4 separate regions of the Homo sapiens genome follow, and all the other regions are reported to be linked to region 2. The links are microRNA targets in miRTarBase. Many come from high-throughput screens and were not tested one by one. Region 2 holds a microRNA gene; each other region holds the end of a gene's coding sequence.
What was found. Region 2 holds the annotated microRNA hsa-miR-4438 (CACAGGCUUAGAAAAGACAGU, at 1,164-1,184, shown strand). A microRNA usually pairs through its seed, bases 2 to 8, with sites in the 3' UTR of a target mRNA and lowers its output. Matches are read on the target gene's strand: a 7mer-m8 pairs with bases 2 to 8, a 7mer-A1 pairs with bases 2 to 7 and ends in A, and an 8mer does both.

Region 1 (3,130 bases), not on the chromosome of region 2:
CAGGCCCCTGCCGCAACCTCTACCCTCCACAGACAAGGTTCTGCAAAACAGTCATGGGACCTTGTTTCACCTCCCCCACAGGCACCCAAAATAACCTTCCTGACCTGCAGCAGCATTTTGCAATCTTTGAGAACCCCTGCCCCCTGCTGACAAACAAAAATGGCAAATAGACTCCCCCACACCACGCCTCCACGCCCTGAGCTGAGAATCGCCCGCATCTCGTGGGTGGTACCAGAGCCAAGACGACAGCCAAGCTTTGCTTTCTCAGCTCTGTCTTATAAAAGCAACATGGTTGGCTGGTTGGTTGCTGATTCTCCAAATATGAAATCACGATATTACAATGTGCACACTTTGTGAGGCCGAGGTAGGTAGGTCGCTTGAGCCCAGGAGTTCGAGACCATCCTGGGCAACATGGTGAGACCTTCTGTCTACAAAAAATACAAAGATTAGCCGGGTGTGCTCGTGCACACCTGTAGTCCCAGCTACCCGGGGCTGAGGTGGGAGGATCACTTGAGCCTGGAAGGAAGGGGCTGCAATGAGCCGAGATTTCACCACTGCACTCCAGCCTGGGTGACACAGCGAGACTTTGTCTCAAAACAATAAATAAATAAAATGTGCACACATCTCAGGTGGGTCCCCCCTCACCCCTGGGAGGTGGGCACGCTCCGTCCCCTCCCATGTGGCAGTCCCTGGATTGGAGCAGTTTCCCCTCCCGACCCAGGGCAGAGGTCTCCAGCTTCACGGAGGCATCCTGGCTGAACGTGCCAGCATTCACTGGAGCCTTCTTGAGTGGGGGCTTCCAGTACCACATCCTGTGGACTGAGGGGCTTCACGCACATTTATTCTCATTCAGTTCTCTGGGCCGCAAGTCTGAGATGAAGGTGTGGCCAGGGCTAGGTCCCTCCAAGGCTGAAGGGGATCTGCCCTGGGCCTCTCCCAGCTCCTGGTGGTGGCCGGCATCATTGGCCTTCCTTGCATGCATGTCTGTGTCCAAATACTTTTTTTTTTCTTTCTAAGACAGAGTCCCACTCTCACCCAAGCTGGAGTGCAGTGGCATGATCATCGGTCACTGCAGCCTCTTAACTCCTGGGCTCAAGTGATCTTCCCTCGTCATCTCTCAAGTAGCTGGGATTATACGTGTGCACCACCACAGTCACTTTTTTTTTTTTTTTTTTTTTTTTTTTTGAGACGAGTCTCGCTCTGTCACCAGGCTGAAGTGCAGTGGTGCAATCTCGGCTCACTGCAACCTCCGCCTCCCTGCAACCTGCGCCTCCCAGGTTCAAGCGATTCTCCTGCCTCAGCCTCCCAAGTAGCTGGGACTACAGGCACGCAACACCATGCCCGGCTAATTTTTGTATTTTTAGTAGAGACGGGGTTTCACCATGTTGGCCAGGATGGTCTCGATCTCTTGACCTTGTGATCTGCCCGCCTCAGCCTCCCAAAGTGCTGGGATTACAGGTGTGAGCCACCACGCCCGGCCCACCACGATAATTTTTTTTTTGTAGAGACGAGGGTCTCACCATGTTGCCCAGACTGGTCTTGAACTTCTGAGTTCAAGCAATCTTCCTGCCTCGGCCTCCCAAAGTGCTGGAATTAGAGTAGTGAGCCACTGCACGTGGCCTCAATCCCCCACTCCCCCGCTTCTTTTTTTGAGACAGAGTCTTGCTCTGTCACCCAGGCTGGAGTGCAGTGGCACAATCTCGGCTCACTGCAACCTCCTCCTCCTGGTTCAAGTGATTATCCTGCCTCAGCCTCCCGAGTAGCTGGGACTACAGGCATGTGCCACCATGCCCAGCTAATTTTTTGTATTTTCAGTAGAGATGGGGTTTCACCGTGTTAGCCAGGATGGTCTCGATCTCCTGACCTCGTGATCCGCCCGCCTCAGCCTCTCAAAGTGCTGGGATTACAGGCGTGAGCCACCGCGCCCTGCCCCAGGCCCCCTTTTTTTAAGGACCCCAGTCCTTGAATTGGGGCCCACCCTACTCCAAGATGAGATCATCTGAACTAATTCCATCTGTAATGATCCTATTTCCAAATCAGATCATCTTCTGAGGTCCTGGGGGTTAGGACGTGAGTTTATGGAAGGGGGGGTGCCGCGACTTGCCCCCTAACACTTCCCTTCCCCCAGTTCACCGTGTGAACCCGTAGTCCTTGTGCGAGGGATGAAAATCCCAGGCGACATGATCCAAGTGGGAGGCAGCAGCTTTTGGCTTTTACATCAAGCGACCCAGGGGTCGGCGTGGCCCAGAAAGTACAAACGGGTGAAAGGTGGTCCCCAGAGTAGGGCCCCAAATTCCTCTCCCCATTGGGCGGGGGCCAGGAGGAGAGGTGACATTGGTGTTTGAAACAGCTGCTACAGATGCCTCAGCATCCTCTCAAAGGAGACAGGTCACCCATCTGTCTAGGGGAGTTTGGCCGGAGTCCGATTGGGAGAAAAGAGGTGGAAAAAAACCCACAAACCCCACCCGCGCCCAGCAGGAGAGCCCCAAAAGGCGCGAGGGGCGCGGTTGGGCGGCGCCGGGGTTCAGAGGCTGCCCTCGTCCAGCATCCGGCCCAGGCCCTCGCAGATCCTGCGCAGGTGGGAGCGGTAGGGCTCGGCGGGGCCGTAGAGCGCAGCCAGGAAGTCGCAGTCGGCTAGGTGGCCGAACACGTGGTTGATGCGGCCGTGGGACTTGGCGGTCAGGTGGGGACCCACGGCCTGGTGCAGCAGGTCGCGGCACTCGAGCAGCCCGGCGGCCAGCACGCGCCGGTCGAAGGTGAAGTCCACCTGGTGGAAGCTGACGGCCGTCATGGCCAGGCAGCGCGCCCGGTGGCGGAAGCGCCGCAGCAGCGCCAGCTCCTCACCGCCCAGCTGGTCCCCACGCAGCAGCAGTCCCAGCTTCAGGGCCACCTTGACCAGGTTCTTGAGCATCTTCTGGGCCTCCTTGCGGCTGCGCGTGAACTCCCTGGTGGCGCGGTACAGCTCATCCAGCACCTCACTGCTGGTGTCATCCACCAGCACGGCCACCACTGCCTTGGACGCCATCTTACTCAGGAGCTTCTTCTGCGCCTGCAGAGCCAGGCTCTTGGTGCTGAAGGTGTCCATGGCCTGCGGGGGACACAGACCAGCCCTCAGTTTTGCACGTTGGGG
Region 2 (3,130 bases):
AAAGAAATGGAATGTAAAAAATCCTAAATATTCCACATAAAAAAGCTTACTAGAATTAATAAATGTATTCAGCAAAGTTGCAGGACACAAAATCAATATGCAAATATCAGTTGTGATTTCATATACTAACATAAATCTGAAACGGAAATTTTTAAAAATTGGGTTAAAATAGCATCAAAAATACATAGAAATATAAACTTAACAGGAGACTAAAGACTTGTTCTCTGAAAACTACAAACATTTCTAAAGAAAATAAAGATGGTAATAAATAGACATATATATTCATGAATTAGATGACTTAATATTGTTGTCCATACTACTTAAAGCTATCCACAGGTTAAATACCATCCATATCAAAATACCCATAGCTGTTTTTTTTTTCTGAAATAGAAAAAGCAATTCTAAAATTCATATGCAACCGCAGAGAACCAAAAAGAGCCCAAACAATCTAAAGAACAAGCTGGAGGTCCTGCACTTCCTGACTTCAAAGGATATTACAAAATTACAGTAGTTAAAACATTATGGAGAAATAGTTATAGAAATATGGTGGAGTAGGAAGCACCAGGAATCTGTCTTCCCACCTAGAGAACAATTGTACTGGCAGAATCTGTCTGATATATAACTATTTTGGATTTTTGACATCTACTAAAGGCTTGCAACTTCTAGGGGAAAGCTTGCATGGCGAATTATGATTAATTTCAGTCAATTTCAGCACTTAACCACAGTAGTAGCTACCCATTTCCCACAGTCACCCCTGTAGCAGGCAGCTGTGCACATGTTACTGGAGCAGTCTGCACAGAGCATGCAGGAACCAGAGTGGGCAAAAAAAGGACCTGTCATCCAAATATCGGCAATCTTTGCTCTGATTGCTGATTGCTGTTTCTGGTCACAAAGATGGACGCAAAGAGGTGAGTGGTTATTGTTGCACCTCTATCCATTATTGCAAGCCCCTCCCTGCTGGCTGAAGTGACTTCCAGAAGATTAAAAGGGCCAGTGCCCTTCTCCTACTTTATTTTTCTGTTTTTCCCCCTTTGACAGCTAGACATTAAAAAGTAGGGCATTCAAAGTAACTGCACATATGGTGACAATCAGAAAATGACTAAGTTACTAAGTGTAAACTTAAGGACTGTCTTTTCTAAGCCTGTGCCTTGCCTTTCCTTTGGCACAGGCTTAGAAAAGACAGTCTTTAAGTTTACACTTCAGACTGATTCTTGGCACAGAGATAGCCTACAACAGAATCCTCTTATGACAATATAAAAAGCAAAATCATTGACTGAAGTAACCGCAAACTCTCAGTAAGAGGGAGAATCTAATTTTTAGAGTTACTATGTTATTAGATCCAAAATCACAATTCATACAAAAAATTAAGAAACTATGTCTTGTCCAAAGGAAAATATGAAATCCCTAAAATGACTTGATGGTGGATCTGCTACAGAGGGACTTTAAAATAATTGTGTTAAATGATCAAAGAACTACAGGAAGATATAGAGAAAGTCAAGAAAATGATATATGAACAAAATGAAAAAAATTCAATGGATAGGAAACCTCACAAGAAGTTAAAAAAAATTGGGAGCTGAAAAGTACAACAACTTAAATAAAAAATTTACTAGAGCGATTCAAAGGAAGATTTGAGCAAGCAAAGGAAACAGTCAGTAAACTTGAAGATAGGACAATGGAAATCAAGGAACAGAAGGAAAAAGAATTGAAAAAAGTAAACAGAGTCTAAGGGACCTGTGTGACACAATCAAGGAGTCACAGGAGGAGAGGAGAAAGAGAAGAGAAAACTTGAAGAAACAACGGATAGAACCTTTCCAAATCTGATAAAAGACATTAATATAAACATTCAAGAAATCCAACAGAATTCAAGGAAGATGAACTCAAAAAGACATAAACTGAAATACATTATAATCAAAGCTTTAAAAGGTGGAGACAAAGATAGAATCTTAAAAGCAGCAGAAAAACATCAATATATTACTTATAAGGAATAATCAGTAAGATTATCAGTATATTTCTCACCAGAAACGTTGCAGGCCAGAAGGCAGTGGGCTGACATTCGAAGTGCTAAAGAAAAACAAAAACAGAAAACATTATCAAACAAGAATCTTATATCCAGCCAAACTGTCCTTAAAGTGAGGGCGAAATTAAGACATCCCCAGGAAAACAACAGTTGGGAGAGCTTGTTACCATTGGACCTGACTTGCAAGAAATCCTCCTGCAGAGTGAAATGAGAAGACACTAGACAGTAACTTGAAGTTGTGTAAAGAAATAAAGATCTTAATAAAGGAAAATACATAGAAAATTATAAAAGCTTATATTATTGTAACAATACTTTTTAACTGCACTTTTCGTGTTCTACATGCTTTAAGAGGTTAATATATATATATTTAAATTTGTATAAAAGTTCATATTATGCTTTGTAACTCCAATTTTGTTTTGTACATAATTTAAGAGACTAATGAATTTAAAATACTTACATGTTTATATTTTTGTATAATACATAAAGATATAATTTTGTGACATCAAAAATTGAGAGGGTGGGGGAATGGAGCTTTTGAAGGAGCCGAGTTTTTATATATTATTGCAGTTATGGTGGTACAAATTTAAATTAGAATGTTATATATGCAGGATCTAAAATATAATCCCTATGGTAACCACCAAGAAAATAGCTATATACAAGGAAATGAGAAAGAAATTTAAGCAAATCACTAAAGAAAATAAAATAGACAACTAAATATAAAAGATAGTAATGCAGGAAATGTAGGGAAACATCTATAAGCTATAACGAATTCAAATAGTGGCTGGGCGCAGTGGCTCACACCTGCAATCCCTGCGCTTTGGGAGGCCGAGGTGGGTGGATCATGAAGTCAGGAGATCGAAACCATCCTGGCCAACATGGTGAAACCCTGTCTCTACTAAAAATACAAAAAATAGCTAGGTGTGGTGGCACATGCCTATAGTCCCAGATACTCATGAGGCTGAGGGAGGAGAATCACTTGAACCCAGGAGGCGGAGGCTGCAGTGATCCAAGATTGTGCCATGGCACTCCATCCTGGGTGACAAAGCAAGACTCTGTCTCAAAAAAAGAAAAAAAAAAGAATTCAAAAATAGTAAAATGACAGAAGTAGCTTCC
Region 3 (3,000 bases), not on the chromosome of region 2:
GGATGGGGGTGGGGGCGGGTACCTTTGCTTTGTCGCTAGGGCTTCATCTCCAGGCTGGGGGTGCCAGCATCTCCCACTTTGGCCTTGCCCTTGGACTCGGCCTGCCGTCGGTTCTGTTTCCTGACAAGATCCAGACCCTGCCCCCACAGCAGAGCTGGGAGGGGGATGGGCTGGTGGGGGAGACATAGCCCCACCCCCACAGTAACTGGGAGGAGGGGTGGGGCATGAGCAAGCCAGCTTCCCCGGGGCGCGCTGTCTGACCCTGCCCCGCGCCTCCTCTCACCCCCAGATCTAGCGCAGCTGCGCAAGAAGTTCGAGGAGGACAAGCAGAGGATCGAGCTGCTGCGGGCCCAGCGCAAATTCCGACCGTACTGAGCTGTGAGAGCCGCAGTGAATGGCTGGAGGTGCAGGGCCAGGAGGAGGCGAGGCAGGGCCTGCAGCGGTCTCTGAGAGGCCGAGCTCTGGCCAACGGGCCCCAGGTTGAAGGCCACCGCGTCCAACAGCCCCATCAGAGTCCACACAGGCCAGGAGGGAAGGACCAGGCCACCCCTCGGGTCTTGTGCTTCAGCAGTCCTGGGGACCCAGGCGTGCCGAGAGGAGGACTTGTCCTTCCTGCTTCTTGCCTCCACACCCTCCTCTCCAGGACCCTGGATGAATCCGTTCTGTGCTTCCTTTTCCCTCAATGCAAAAGCCCTTGCTGGCAACGAAAAAGCCTCAAAAGCAGTGAGAATACAAGAACCTTTTATTTTCCATCCAGTTGGGCAGCAGGGAAAGGCTAGGTGGGCCCAGCCCGCCCTTCCTTCCTCCAGCTGGCTGGAGATTATTAGCCAGGAGACAGCAGCCCTGGAACCCAGACTCTGTCTCCCCCTTGAGGTCACAGATGTTGAAGTTGGAATCTCGCTCCTTCCCCTGACTACCATCCTAGGCTGGGCCTCAAGACTAGTGAGGCCTGTCCCCACCATCCCTGGCCTTGTTGTGGGGCTCAGGAACTCAGAGTCCCAGTGTTGAGTCTGGGAGCACTAGGTCTTCATAGTTCCAGGCCCAGAGCTACAGCTGGGCTGGGAGCGTGTGTGTGCACTGTAAGAAGGAGCTGATGATACTGGCCACGTGCTGGGGTTCGCTCATGTGGACACAGTGATTGCCTGGGACTTCCACAAACTGGAACCGCTGGAGAGGGGAGGGGGTGGGTAGTGAGATGTGGCCAGAGGAGCCTAGGGAGCTCCATGGGCCCCGGGGTCAGGGCCCTCCCACAGCATTCCAGCTCCCTGCAGGTCAGGAGCGCCTCCCACAGTGAGTTTCCCCCACACTCGGCTCCTTGGAGCCCCGACAGTCCATAGCACCCCAGGAGATGTCTAACCTTAGGGACTTGGAGGCCTCCCAGGGGTCTAGGCCAGCTGAGTTGTGAAGTTGCATGGCAGGGACAGGGCAGGGCCGAGGCCAGGGTTGCTGTGATTGTATCCGAAGTAGTCCTCGTGAGAAAAGATAATGAGATGACGTGAGCAGCCTGCAGACTTGTGTCTGCCTTCAAGAAGCCAGACAGGAAGGCCCTGCCTGCCTTGGCTCTGACCTGGCGGCCAGCCAGCCAGCCACAGGTGGGCTTCTTCCTTTTGTGGTGACAACGCCAAGAAAACTGCAGAGGCCCCAGGGTCAGGTGTAAGTGGGTAGGTGACCATAAAACACCAGGTGCTCCCAGGAACCCGGGCAAAGGCCATCCCCACCTACAGCCAGCATGCCCACTGGCGTGATGGGTGCAGAGGGATGAGGCAGCCAGGTGTTCTGCTGTGGTTTGGGAGCCTATAAAGTGAGACTAGGCTGGGCATGGTGGCTCCCATCTGCAAAACCAGCACTTTGGGAGGCCAAGGTGGGCGGATCGCCTGAGGTCAGGAGTTTGAGACCAGCCTGGCCAACATGGTGAACCCCCATCTCTTAAAAATATAAAAATTAGCTGGGCATGGTGGCAGGTGCCTGTAATCCCAGCTACTCAGGAGGCTGAGGCACGAGAGTCGCTTGAACCCGGGAGGTGGAGGTTACAGTAAGCTGAGATCTTCCCACTGCACTCCAGCCTGAGCGACAGAGTGAGACTCCATCTCAAAAAAAAAAAAAAAGTGTGACTATTAGCTGGGCATGATGGCATGCGCCTGTAGTGCCACCTACTCAGGTGGCTGAGGTGGGAGGATCATTTGAGCCCAGGAGTTTGAGGCTGCAGTGAGCTATGACTGAGCCTGAGCAACAGAATGAGACCCTGTCTCTCAAAAAATGTGGGACTGTCTCTGGCAGTTGGGTCACCTAATTGTGCCTGGCCCCAAGAAGGAGGGGTGGGTACTTGAGGATGGTAAAGAACCTCCCCACCAAAGGTCTCTGTTTCTTAAATTCTGATTACATGTGTCCCCAGGCCTCTAGGGACTGATCACTGGAGCATGAGGCCTGATAGATCCTGGTGGTCACTTGTTGGGCCTGGGGGCAGACCAGGGGTCTTTCCCAGTGCATGAGAAGAGATGGGTGAGGTGGGACCAGAGTGGGCGACAGTGGCTGGACACCAGCTGCCTGAGCCCCGCCTTACCTCTTTGAGGGTGGATTTCATTGTGTCTATCATGAACGACAGGGACTCCTTGTCAGAGTAATTCTCTCTTGGATCAAAATATCCGTGGACTGCTCTGGAAAGTGAGGAGTTGGGGGTTGTTGGGGTTCATCTTAGAACCGCCTCCCAGCGGTGCCCCCATCCTGCCCTGGGTTCAGGCCTCTGAGGAGAAACCAAAGCCTGGGCTACCCCAACTCCCACAGCTGGGTCCCTTGACCCTGGGTTGGATTTGAGGCTCAGTTAATCTCAGCTCACGCTCAGCTGGCACAAGCCAGGCGCAAGCAAGTGCTGAAGGCACAGCCTTGCTGGGGCGCAGGGAGTTCAGGACTTGGTCACAGTCAGCCCTGAACAGCAGAGCTGGGATCTGAACAGGCGCTGGAGCCCACACTTGCTCTGAGAGAGAATTTATGTCTTCACAATCC
Region 4 (3,130 bases), not on the chromosome of region 2:
TGTGGGAAAACGTTATCTCATAGCTCAAGCTTTCGAAGACACATGATAATGCACACTGGAGGTGGACCTCATAAATGCAAGATATGTGGGAAAGCTTTTGTTTATCCTAGTGTATGTCAAAGACACGAAAAGTCTCACAGTGGAGAGAAACCCTATGAATGCAAGCAGTGTGGGAAAGCGTTATCTCATAGCTCAAGCTTTCGAAGACATATGGTAATGCATACGGGAGATGGGCCGAATAAATGCAAGGTATGTGGGAAAGCCTTTGTTTATCCCAGTGTATGTCAAAGACATGAAAAGACTCACTGGAGAGAAACAATATGAATGTAAACTATTATAAAGCCTTCTATATTTCCAGTTCCCTTTGATATCATGAATAAACTTACACTGGACAGAAACCCTATAAATGTAAATGTGGGAAAGCCTTTCATAATTTTTATTCCTTTCAAAATCATGAAATATCTCACACTGGAGAGATGCTGTATGATATAAGGAATGTGGGAAAGTGATCGATTTTTTTTTAACACCATTGTCAACATAAAACAACTCACAGAGCAGAAAAACTCTGTGAGTGTAAAATATGTAGGGAAGCCTTCAGTCATTTTGGTAACTTAAAAGTACATGAGGCTGGGCACAGTGGCTCACGCCTGTAATCCCAGCACTTAGGGTGGGCAAATTGCTTGACCTCAGGAATTTGAGGCCTGCCTGGGCAAAATGGTGAAACCATGTCTCTACAAAAAATAGAAAAAGTAGCAGGTGTGGTGGTATGCCCCTGTAGTCCCAGCTACTTGGGAGGCTGAGGTGGGAAGATCTCTTGAGCCCAAGGGGTGGGGGTTGCAGTGAGCCAAGATGCACTGCACCCCAGCCTGGGCGACAGAGCCAGACCCTGTCTCAAAAAAAAAAAAAAAGTACATGAAAGGATTCACTCTGGAGAGAAGTCATATGAATGTAAGAAATGTAGAAAAGCATTGAGTTCTCTCAGGTCCTTGCATAGACATAAAAGGACTCACTGGAGAGATACTCTATAAATGTGTGAAATGTAGGGAAGTATTCTTTAATGTTATTTCATTTCAGATAGAAATAATTCTCATTGGAGATAAACCCTATGAATGTAAACACATAGTAAAGCCTTAATTTTAAGCCTCAGTTTCTTTCAAATACAGTTATCCCCTAATATTTGCAGGAGCGTGGTTCTACCACCCCCTGGGCATACATAAATCGACACATGCCAAGTCCTTTTTTAAAAATGACATATTTGGTACAAAATTACCCGGATGTGATGGCACATGCCTGTAATCCCAGCTACTCAGGAGGCTGAGGCAGGATAATCACTTGAATCCGGGAGGCGGAGGTTGCGGTGAGCCAAGATCGCGCCACTGCACTCCAGCCTGGGCAGCAAGAGCAAAACAACCTCTGTCACACACACAAAAAAAAAAAAAAAGGAAAGAAAGAAAAGACATATTTGGGTTAGACACAGTTGCTCACCTCTGTAATCCTAGCACCTTAGGAGCCCAAGACAGGTGGATCACTTGAGCCCAGGAGTTAGAGGCCAGCCTGGGTAATGTGGCAAAACCCTGTCTCTACAGAAGATACACAAATTAGCCAGGTGTGGTGACATGTACCTGTAGTCCCAGCTACTAGGGAAGCTGAGGTGGGAGGATCGCTTGAGCCTGGGAGGTTGAGGTTGCGGTGAGTCAAAATCACATCACTGCATTCTAGCATGGGCAACAGAATGAGACCCTGTCTCAAAAAAATAATAACAATAAAAAATATTTGCATGTAACCTACCCACATCCTCCTGTATACTCTAAATCATCTGTAGATTAGTTAAAATACATCATGCATCATAGAAGCTATGTAAATAGTTGTTATTATATTGTTTAGTGAATCATGATATGAGAAAGACCCTACACATATTCAGTACAGACCCACCCACATAATACATGTCACCTAGAGCATTATAAATCTTTTCTTTCAACACTCATAGATTGCTTTTGTTTAATGACCTGAAAATGTGTTAACATTCACCCAACAAAAGTGTAATGATGATTATTGCAATATCGTGCCTAATGTTGTGATGTGTTGAGTCAGCTAGATGTGTGACACCACAGATAAGCAGTGAGACCTCAGGCTAACTCGAATCTTGACAGGATGTCAACATGATCAACTATATTGGAAGAAACAGATTCTGACTGCAGATACTGAATTTTTGGAGCAGTCTAAATAATACTAATGTCAGAATCTGTTCAATTTGAGGACTGAAGATCTTTAAGCATTGAAGGCTGTCTTCATATTTGCAGATATTTAATTAGAAACATTGTAGGAAGCTAGTTTTTTTTTTTTTAAACTTTGCAACGTTTGTGAGCATGTAATCTCTGGGGTGACATGGAGGCTTTGTTCCATGGAAGAATCTTAATTGAGGATGATAATCTTTAACACTTGCGCCTTGTAGAAGCTGTAGGTGCCCTAAAACTGCTTCCAATTTTTCTTTTTTTTTCTTTTTCTTTTCTTTTTTTTTTTTTTTAAGACAAGATCTCACTCTGTCACCCTACAGTGCATGGCTCACTGCAGCCTCAACTTCCTGGGCTCAAGTGATCTTCCCACCTCAGCCTCCCAAGTAGCTGGGATTATAGGCACACATCACGATGCCTGGCTACTTTTTGTGTTTTTTGTGGAGACAAGGTTTCACCATGTTTCCCAGGCTGGTCTTGAACTCCTGGAATCAAGAGATCTGCCTGCCTTGGCCTCCCAAATTACTAGGATTACAGGGTGAGCCACCACACCCAGCCTTCAGATTTTTCAAGTATCAAAATCTATAGCACTGCTTCTTTTTTTTTTTTTCAGACAGAGTCTCACTCTGTCGCTGAGGCTGAAGTGCAGTGGTGCAATCTCAGCTCACTGCAGCCTCCACCTCCCAGGTTCAAGTGATCCTCCTGCATCAGCCACCTGAGGAGCTGGGATTACAATCTCAGCTCACTGCAACCTCCACCTCCCAAGTTCAAGTGATCCTCCTGCCTCAGCCACCCAAGTAGCTGGGAATACAGGCATGCACCACCATGCCCAGCTAATTTTTGTATTTTTAGTAGAGACAGGGTTTCGCCATGTTTGCCAAGCTGGTTTTGAACTCCCT

Region 1: miRTarBase lists TNFAIP8L1 as a target of hsa-miR-4438. Seed matches in the 3' UTR shown: 7mer-A1 at 1,905-1,911, 7mer-A1 at 1,771-1,777 and 7mer-A1 at 1,321-1,327.
Region 3: miRTarBase lists RRP7A as a target of hsa-miR-4438. Seed matches in the 3' UTR shown: 7mer-A1 at 1,964-1,970 and 7mer-A1 at 2,137-2,143.
Region 4: miRTarBase lists ZNF563 as a target of hsa-miR-4438. Seed matches in the 3' UTR shown: 7mer-A1 at 646-652 and 7mer-A1 at 1,289-1,295.

What each region holds. Positions count from the first base shown.
Region 1 is chr19:4,651,825-4,654,954 of GRCh38, reverse strand. It overlaps TNFAIP8L1 (TNF alpha induced protein 8 like 1), which reads right to left. Exons shown (of 2, transcript NM_152362.3): 2 at 1-3,088. The coding sequence starts at 3,085. The coding sequence ends at 2,525. Among named protein-coding and RNA genes, the nearest start is that of TNFAIP8L1, 14 kb to the right of the region's middle. RefSeq lists a silencer at 174-223.
Region 2 is chr2:213,756,959-213,760,088 of GRCh38, forward strand. MIR4438 (microRNA 4438) reads left to right here and starts at 1,109; the gene lies at 1,109-1,201. The region is part of intron 10 of SPAG16 (sperm associated antigen 16); the gene reads left to right.
Region 3 is chr22:42,510,285-42,513,284 of GRCh38, reverse strand. RRP7A (ribosomal RNA processing 7 homolog A) reads left to right here. Exons shown (of 7, transcript NM_015703.5): 7 at 290-3,000. The coding sequence ends at 375. It also overlaps the pseudogene SERHL. Among named protein-coding and RNA genes, the nearest start is that of RRP7A, 8.0 kb to the left of the region's middle.
Region 4 is chr19:12,315,788-12,318,917 of GRCh38, reverse strand. ZNF563 (zinc finger protein 563) reads left to right here. Exons shown (of 4, transcript NM_145276.3): 4 at 1-1,441. The coding sequence ends at 324. Among named protein-coding and RNA genes, the nearest start is that of ZNF563, 16 kb to the left of the region's middle.